Linked DNA regions of Homo sapiens. The protein of the gene in region 1 purifies or fractionates together with the protein of each later gene. This does not show direct contact. Each region holds a gene or a part of one and is shown on either strand. Other genes may lie near its edges. The genes, in order: CNNM4 and KIAA0319L.

Region 1 (3,810 bases):
ATAAAAAATTCCAAATTTTTCATAATCAATAGTATTAATTTCTTTTTTTCTTTGAGATGGAGTCACTCGCTCTGTTGCCCAGGCTGGAGTGCAGTGGCATGATCTTGCCTCACTACAACCTCCACCTCCTGGGTTCAAGCAATTCTGCGCCTGAAATCTCAGCACTTTGGGAGGCCGAGGTGGGCTGAACACTTGAGATCAGGAGCAGGAGAGTAGCCTGGCCAACATGGTGAAACCCCATCTCTACTAAAAATACAAAAAATTAGCCGAGTGTGGTGGCAGGTGCCTGTAATCAGGCAGACTGAGGTGGGAGAATCACTGGAACCTGTGAGGTGGAGATTGCAGTGAGCTGAGATCACGCCACTGCACTCCAGCCTGGGTGACAGAGTGAGACTCCAGCTCAAAAAAAAAAAAAAAACCACACACACACAAAAATACAATTTTATTAGAATTTATACAATGAGAATCCTAAATATAAGCCCTAAATTGATCTGCTTATTTTAGATGTTAAATCAGTTAGCAATAATTTCCGAAGTATAGAAACTTCTAAATTAGTAAAATCTAAAATAATTCTTTCCATCTTCGGCCTCCCTTCCCCTTCCCCGCTCCCCTTCCCCTCACTGGTTACTTTTCTCCTCCTGCTAAATGGATGTAGAGGCACAAAGAAAGACAGGAGGGACTGGTCACGGTGGCTCACACCTGTAATCCCAGCACTCTGGGAGGCCGAGGAGGGTGGATCACCTGAGGTCAGGAGTTCGTGACCAGCCTGACCAACATGGTGAAACCCCATCTCTACTAAAAATACAAAAAATTAGCTGGGTGTGGTGGCGGGCGCCTGTAATCCCAGCTACTTGGCAGGCTGAGGCAGGAGAATCCCTTGAACCTGCTAGGTGGAGGTTGCAGTGAGCTGAGATCGCGCCACTGTACTCCAGCCTGGCGACAGAGCAAGACTACATCTCAAAAAAAAAAGAGAGGAGGTCAGGCTCACCGTCCCATGGGCCTGATAACTGGGACAGAGCTGCCCTAAAGGGAGACAGGAGTGTTGGGGGGATGGGCATGAGCTGGGTTTTGGCTGCGTTAATTTCAAGGTATTAGTGACGTCAGGCAGCACTTGGATAGAGGAATCTGGAGGGCACGGGAGAGGACAGGGCTGCAGAGATTTATTTGGGACACTTGTACACTTGTATTTAAAGTTGCTAGGCAAGGGACCAGGTGTACAGACTGAGTTCTGAGTCTCTCCAGCATTTAAGTGGTCAGGGAGAAGCAGTGACTCCTGAGGTCAGGAGCACTGGGAGGGCTGTGCCCTGGAAGCCCTGGGCAGAAAGGGCTTCCAGGGGAAAGGAGGGAGTCACCGTTGGTCAGCAGGTCATCTGAGAATAACACTCCACCATGAAAGGTCATTGGTGACCTTGACCAGAGGCTCTCTGGCCCGGGGAGGGGAAAATTCTACCAGGACAAAAAGATGTCCCCTCTGGACAGACAAATTAGAAAATAGGAAAAACAGCCCAGGGGCCCAAAGCTCACCCTGCAGAGGGTGACTGACTGGCCCCTTAGGCTGGAACCTCTGTACGGAACCCCAGTTGGCCAGCCATCAGGCAGTGCCCAAAGCTCAGCTTGCAGAGGAGGGGTGAACGTGTACATGGTGCTCAGGGCTGTACACCTACAAGGTGCCTGTCATGCAGCTGGCTGCCACCCGAGGGTGCACACACACAGCAGTGGATCCCGCCAAGGGGTCTCAGAGAGGAGGCGGGGGGCGGAGAATGGTATCAAGACCCTGCTCAGGGAATCAGCTCATTTCATCCGCAGGAGGGCTGTTTCCACTATAAGAGAGGCTGCCAGGCCGGGCGCGGTGGCTGACATCTGTAATCCCAGCACCCTGGGAGGCCAAGGCAGAATGATCACTTGAGGTCAGGAGTTCGAGACCAGCCTGGCCAACCTGGCGAAACCCCGTCTCTACTAAAAATGCAAAATTAGCTGGGTATGGTGGCGCACACCCAGCTACTCAGGAGGCTGAGGCAGGAGAATCGCTTGAACCTGGGAGGTGAAGGTTGCAGTGAGCTGAGATTGTACCACTGTACTCCAGCCTGGGCCACTCCAGCCTAGGCTACACAGTGAGAGTCTGTCTCAAAAAAAATAAAAACAGAGAGAGGCCAGCAGCCTTTCACTGTGAGGGAACCTTTCGTTGGTCAGGATTTGGTCTGAGCCTGTGGAGTAATTAGGGATGTGAATGTAGTGGAGAGGTTGTTTTCTGACTTTGGGGGTCTGAACAAGGTTCTGCTCACTGAACCTTGTCAAAGAACACACCCCCATTCCCTGGGGCTCGATCTGTGGCAGTAAAAAGCACAGAGGGCCCTTGTCCACCCTAGAGACTCTCACCAGTTTCCCTTTGTTCTCCTTAATTTTGTTTTCCCCCTTAATTTTGTCTCAGTTTTGTTTTTAAATTATAAAAGTAAAACATGCCCATCAAATATAACAGTATAGAAGGGTATATAGAGAGGCAAAATAGCCTCCTCCCCAAACTCCAAATACCCCCAAAGGTGACCACTCTTACTACTTCTGGACGCTTCCAGGGCAGTTCAAGCCCACACACGCCTTTGTTTCTGTGAAGGCAGATGGCTCCATGCATTCTGTTCCGTGACTTGCTCTTTCACTAATAGCGTATCTTGGATTTCGTTCCGCGCTTTATTCATCCACCTCTGCCGTGTTCTCCCTTGAGTAGCTGTGGCCCCTTTTGAGTCCCTGTGCCCTATTGCTATTGCTTTAGGTTGTTTCTGGTTTGGGGCTGTTAAAAAGAATGTTGCCAAGAGCCCCCTTCTCTTGTGTCTTTTGTGAAGGTTGCCTCTCCCTAGGGTGAGTTCCTAGAAGTGGACCTTCTAAGTCCAAGGTTAGGAACCCTTGATTTTGTGACATCCTGACCAACTGGCCCCCTGAAATGTACCCTTTTACCTGGCCACCAACCAGATACATGTGAGGGCCTGTTTGTCTTCCCCATCCTCCACCATAACTGGGCATTACCAGGCTTTTTAGAGGGTGCCCATCTGGAAGGGGGTACAGGTTGGGCATCCCGAATCCAAAAATCCAAAATCCCAAATGCTCCAAAATCCAAAACTTTTTGAGTACCAACATGATGCTCAAAAGAAATGCTCATTGGAGCATTTTGTAGTTCAGATTTTCAGATTTGGGATGCCCAATGGCGTGTATTCTGCAAATATTCCAAAATCCAAAAAAATCTGAAATCTGAAACACTTCTGATCCCCAGTGAGGAATAAGGGATACTCAGCCTGTCAAAGCTGCCTTGCTTTAATTCCCATCCCCATGTGGTGACATGGTTTAGCTAGATGCCCAGGCCCTTCCAGGCACTGTCTTTCTGGAGGGCACTCCTGTATGGACAGCCTCCAGCAGGCACAGAGGCCTGGGGGCGGACCCCAGGGTCCCGGCCTGGCCCGCTGCCGCCCTGCTGGAGGGCCTCACAGATCTCTTGAACTTGTTGGCTCATCTCTAGGAAGATACTGGGGTATTTTCAATCGAGTCCAGCCATGGCTTTGTCTAGCAAGACGCTAAATGTTTTTTGACCAGAACCTGTAGTGGGAAATACATATATCATAGCCCCTGGCATGTGTGTGAAAAACTTTCACAATGCAGTACCCCCCCCCCCATCACATGGGGTGTATTGTGAGAATTTTTACTTTAGTCATGAGACCTCACATTCTCTCTGCTCTCCCTAAGAGGCCCTTAGAAGTTCTTAACAGCCCATCTTGGGCTGGGGGATTTTCTGTGGCCTTAAAGACCTGGAAAACATCCTCCACCGAG
Region 2 (3,810 bases), on another chromosome or scaffold:
CTCAGGTGATCCTTCCACCTCAGCTTCCTAAGTAGCTGGGACCACAGGCATGCGCCACCATCCCCAGGTTTTTTTGTTGTTGTTGTTGTTGTTTTGTATTTTTGGTAGAGACGGGGTTTCATCATGTTGCCTAGGCTGTTCTTGAACTCCTGGGCTTAAGTGATCTGCCTGCCTTGGTCTCCTAAAGTGCTGGGATTATAGGTGTGAGCCATGGCACCCGGTCTTGGTTTATATTTTAAAAAGACAACTGTGTAGCTGGGCGTGGTGGTGGGTGCCTGTAATCCCAGCTACTCGAGAGGCCAAGGCAGGAGAATTGCTAGAACCTGGGGGTGTGAAGGTTTCAGTGAACTGAGATCACTCCAACCTGGGCAATAAAGCCAGACTCTGTCTCAAAAAAAAAAAAAAAAAAAAAAAAAAGATAACTGTGGCTGACAGATGCAGGGGTTGGAGGGGAAAGGCTAGCTGAAAGGAAGTTAGATAGAATGTCCTTGGGGTTGAGAGGCAGATAGATTCTAGATACATTTTTGAGGAAGACTTGATGAGGTTAGTGGTCTGCTGGCCAAGGCGTGTGGGAGAAGGGAGAAAGGAAGGATGGCTCCCAGCTTCAGCACTGAGCCTCTGTGGGTTGGGTGGTGGTAGTATCCCTGAGATGGGAGAGACTGGAGAAGAAATGGTGGAGATCAAGTGTTTGGTGCAAGACAGTTATGAATGGAGTTGAGGGAATGAGAATGAAAGATTGACAAGGCCCAAATTGTGAAAGTTTGACTATCAGCCTGCAGAGTTAAACATTTATCCTGGTGATGCTGGGAAGCAAAGTCTTGGATAAGCTGGTTTAGGAAAATCAGTCTGGTGACAACATATAATAATTGAAGGGGAGTGGCTACAAGTGTGGAGACCAGCAAGGAGATTTTTGGTCCAAGGAGGAGCTGACAGTGATTCACACAGCGTGGTGTCAGTGGGTTATAGCTAGGTCTGGCAAGGTCAGGGCTGACTTCCAACCGAGAGATGGAGAATGATAGTGCTGTTGACAGAATCAGAACCTCTGATGCAGTGACTGGGTAAGAGAAGATGAATTAAATGGAACTCAGCAGAAGAGTCAGACATGGAACTGTAGAAATAGGAATCTCCCATCTGCTGGTGAGGATCAGCACCACAAAGGGTCACATCCCTTATGGGGGAATGTTGAAGGACAAAAGAAGAGGCCTAGGGTTGAGGACCCCAAGAATGACCATCCAGGAGGGAGGAGGGGATTCATTAGGGGACAGCCGTCGGTGTTTGCTGCTGCAAAGGCCAAAGAATCAGAATTGATAGCACCAGAGAAGCTCCTGGCCCATCAGAGAGCTGCAGTAGAGTGGGGAGTGACAGTGGAAGTGAAAGCGCAGGTGATTTAGAAAGCGCAGTGAGGAGATGAAGGCCCTGAATATTTAAAAATCCTTTTAGAAGCTGAGCAGTGAAAGCTAGAGAAGCAGGATGGCAGGCAGAGGGCAAGGGCCTCCTCTTCCTCAGAGAAGGGCTCATGAACAGATCTGTGGGTGGCAATGTCGAATGCAGGTAGAGGAGTGGTGCGTTGGAGAGGTGCTTCCTGACTGAGGAGGAAGGAGGGAGAAGGGAAGAGAGGAGAGAAAGGGAGCATGGAGTTCAGATGCCTCTTCTGAGGCAGGAGGGGAGAAACGGGCGGTGATGGCCCGGAGAAGTGCCGCGCTGCAGAGGTGAGATTGGATGGGAGCCTGAGCTCAGCACATCGGACATCTTAGGGAGAGGGGAGAGCCATGGGGTGTTCCAGTGGCATCTAGGTGACCAAAACCAACAACGTGCGACCAGGTGAGGGCAGCAGGGCTGGTCTCTTGTGGGCAGTGTCTACCGAAGGGAGCTGGGAGAGCCCGCTCAGGTTCGGTGTGGGTCTGAGCAGGCCGGAAGCACTGGTTCTTGTTCTGGGCTCAGTGGGTTAGCAGGTCCAGCCTAGAGTAGAGTCACTAGGAGGACGAGGAGAATGAGATTCAAGACCATATGGTGTCAGGTATGGAACTGAAGAAGTTTAGCTGGAAGAAGGGTAAACTGAGTGGGTCCGTTGGGGGGAAAGAGGATGTGTGTGCGCGGGAGTCTGGACGGACAGTTTGCCAGGAGCCAGTTTAGGCTGAGGATGAACAGTAACTGAGGAAGGAGAGCAGTGCCACCTGGTAAGTGTAGGGCTGCCCCCCTCAGGAGGCCCCCTTTACATTCAGCAGCTATGGCTTTGTTTTCTCTTGTTGCTGTTGTTTTTTGTTGTTGTTTTTGTTTTCTATTGATTTTTTTTCTAAAACTTTCTATTGAAGTATATTAGGTTGAACCTAGGCTCCTGTCCTCACTGCTATAGCCAGAGGGGCTTTGGGAAGGAGGCAGCTGTGAACAGGTGGGTATTTCAAGGGGTGAGGCAGGGCCTTTGGAGGACCTGGGCCCTTGCCAGGGCCCTTTCCACTGTCCCCACCACACTGGAGATGTCCTGGCGGTCAGTGTTCTTCTGTGGCCCTGCTGCTCCGCTGCCCGAAGACTCAGTAGGAGAGGTTCAGTCAAGACCCAGAACTGTAACCCTGACACCAACGCGGGTGAGGAAGCTCCCTGCCCAAGCCCCAGAGCATGTGGCACAGGCACAGCTGTACATGGACAAGGTCCTTGGGCGCATGTGGTCCTGAATGGCAGGCGCATCAGGGTCTGGATGCGCTCAGCCTGGAGAGCTCGGGGCACTGCCACCCTTAAGTCAGGTGTGGCCAGGAAGGGCTGAATGGCTGGGAATCCTCTCAAGGCACTTTCAGTATGTGAGGGAGATCTGGATCCTTCTCCCCGGAGAAGGGAGAATGATTATTGGATGATGAGATTGTGGTGCTGGAGAGGGCTCTCCCCTCTCCCTAAGATGTCCACCCCTCACCTGACTGGTTACCTTTTTTAGAAAGGAGGGAGGTTAGCTCCTGGGCGTGGGCATTCCCAGGACCCAGAACACTGCTGAGGGGGTGCCACCTGTTGGCAGCTCCCACTCTAGTCCTGCTATCTCAGCCTGCTGTTTGTTTTCTCTGGAGTTTTTGCACCAGCCAGAGGGCAGCCATCTTTGCTGTTGGAACTCTTCTTATCAGACCACATTTCATGTCTGTGGCCGCTCGGCATCTATAGGGATAAGTAGTGAAGGGACTGCCATGGCTTGCAGAATCGCAGGTGTCTTCTTCGACCCCAGGTGCTTCATACGGTTCTTGCTTTGTGTGTTCTGTGATTTGGCTGCTTGGGACTGCTTCTGAGAGTCCCCATTTCAGTCAGGCTCTCCCAGCAGGAGAGACCTGTCCAAGTGTGCACCTACTCTGCCACCCTAGCATCCAGTGAAGCCACAGCAGACAAGAGCCCACAGAGCAAATGTCTACATGGACTGAAACTGCACACTCCTGCTGTGCCAGCACTCAGCGGCCTTGCTGACCTAGGGTGCAGCTAAAAGCTCATTCTCCAGAGCCTGAGTTCTTTGTGCTTTCCTGCCTACCATGTCATTCCACCCATAGAGGGAGGTGATAAAATATTCCAAATTTGAAAGGTAAAGAAAAGAGAATGTCACTGAGTGGCCTGAACCAAAGCTCATGGATACTGGAGATGAAGAACCAGCAGGAGACCCCAGGTGTGCTCTCATCCGTACTCTGTGACACCCCTTAGTGGACTGTTCCAACCAGTTGGGCCCGGGAGAAGGACTAGGGAAGCTTCCTTCCCATCTGCACCTCCCAGCCTGGAGAGGAGCCTGTGACTTGCCCTGTTCCTTGGCTCCTCAGGCTGGGGTAAGGTGTGGGGGTGGCTCCAGCCTTG

Evidence for each region.
Region 2: the proteins of CNNM4 (region 1) and KIAA0319L fractionate together in Homo sapiens (co-fractionation; one large-scale study listed by BioGRID). This does not show direct contact.

What each region holds. Positions count from the first base shown.
Region 1 is NC_000002.12:96,791,844-96,795,653, forward strand, and holds part of CNNM4 (metal transporter CNNM4 precursor), read left to right. Parts: intron 1-3,810. UniProt on the Homo sapiens protein: Probable metal transporter. The interaction with the metal ion chaperone COX11 suggests that it may play a role in sensory neuron functions. May play a role in biomineralization and retinal function.
Region 2 is NC_000001.11:35,435,123-35,438,932, reverse strand, and holds part of KIAA0319L (dyslexia-associated protein KIAA0319-like protein), read left to right. Parts: intron 1-3,335; coding exon of another isoform or gene 3,336-3,451; exon of another isoform or gene 3,452-3,628; intron 3,629-3,810.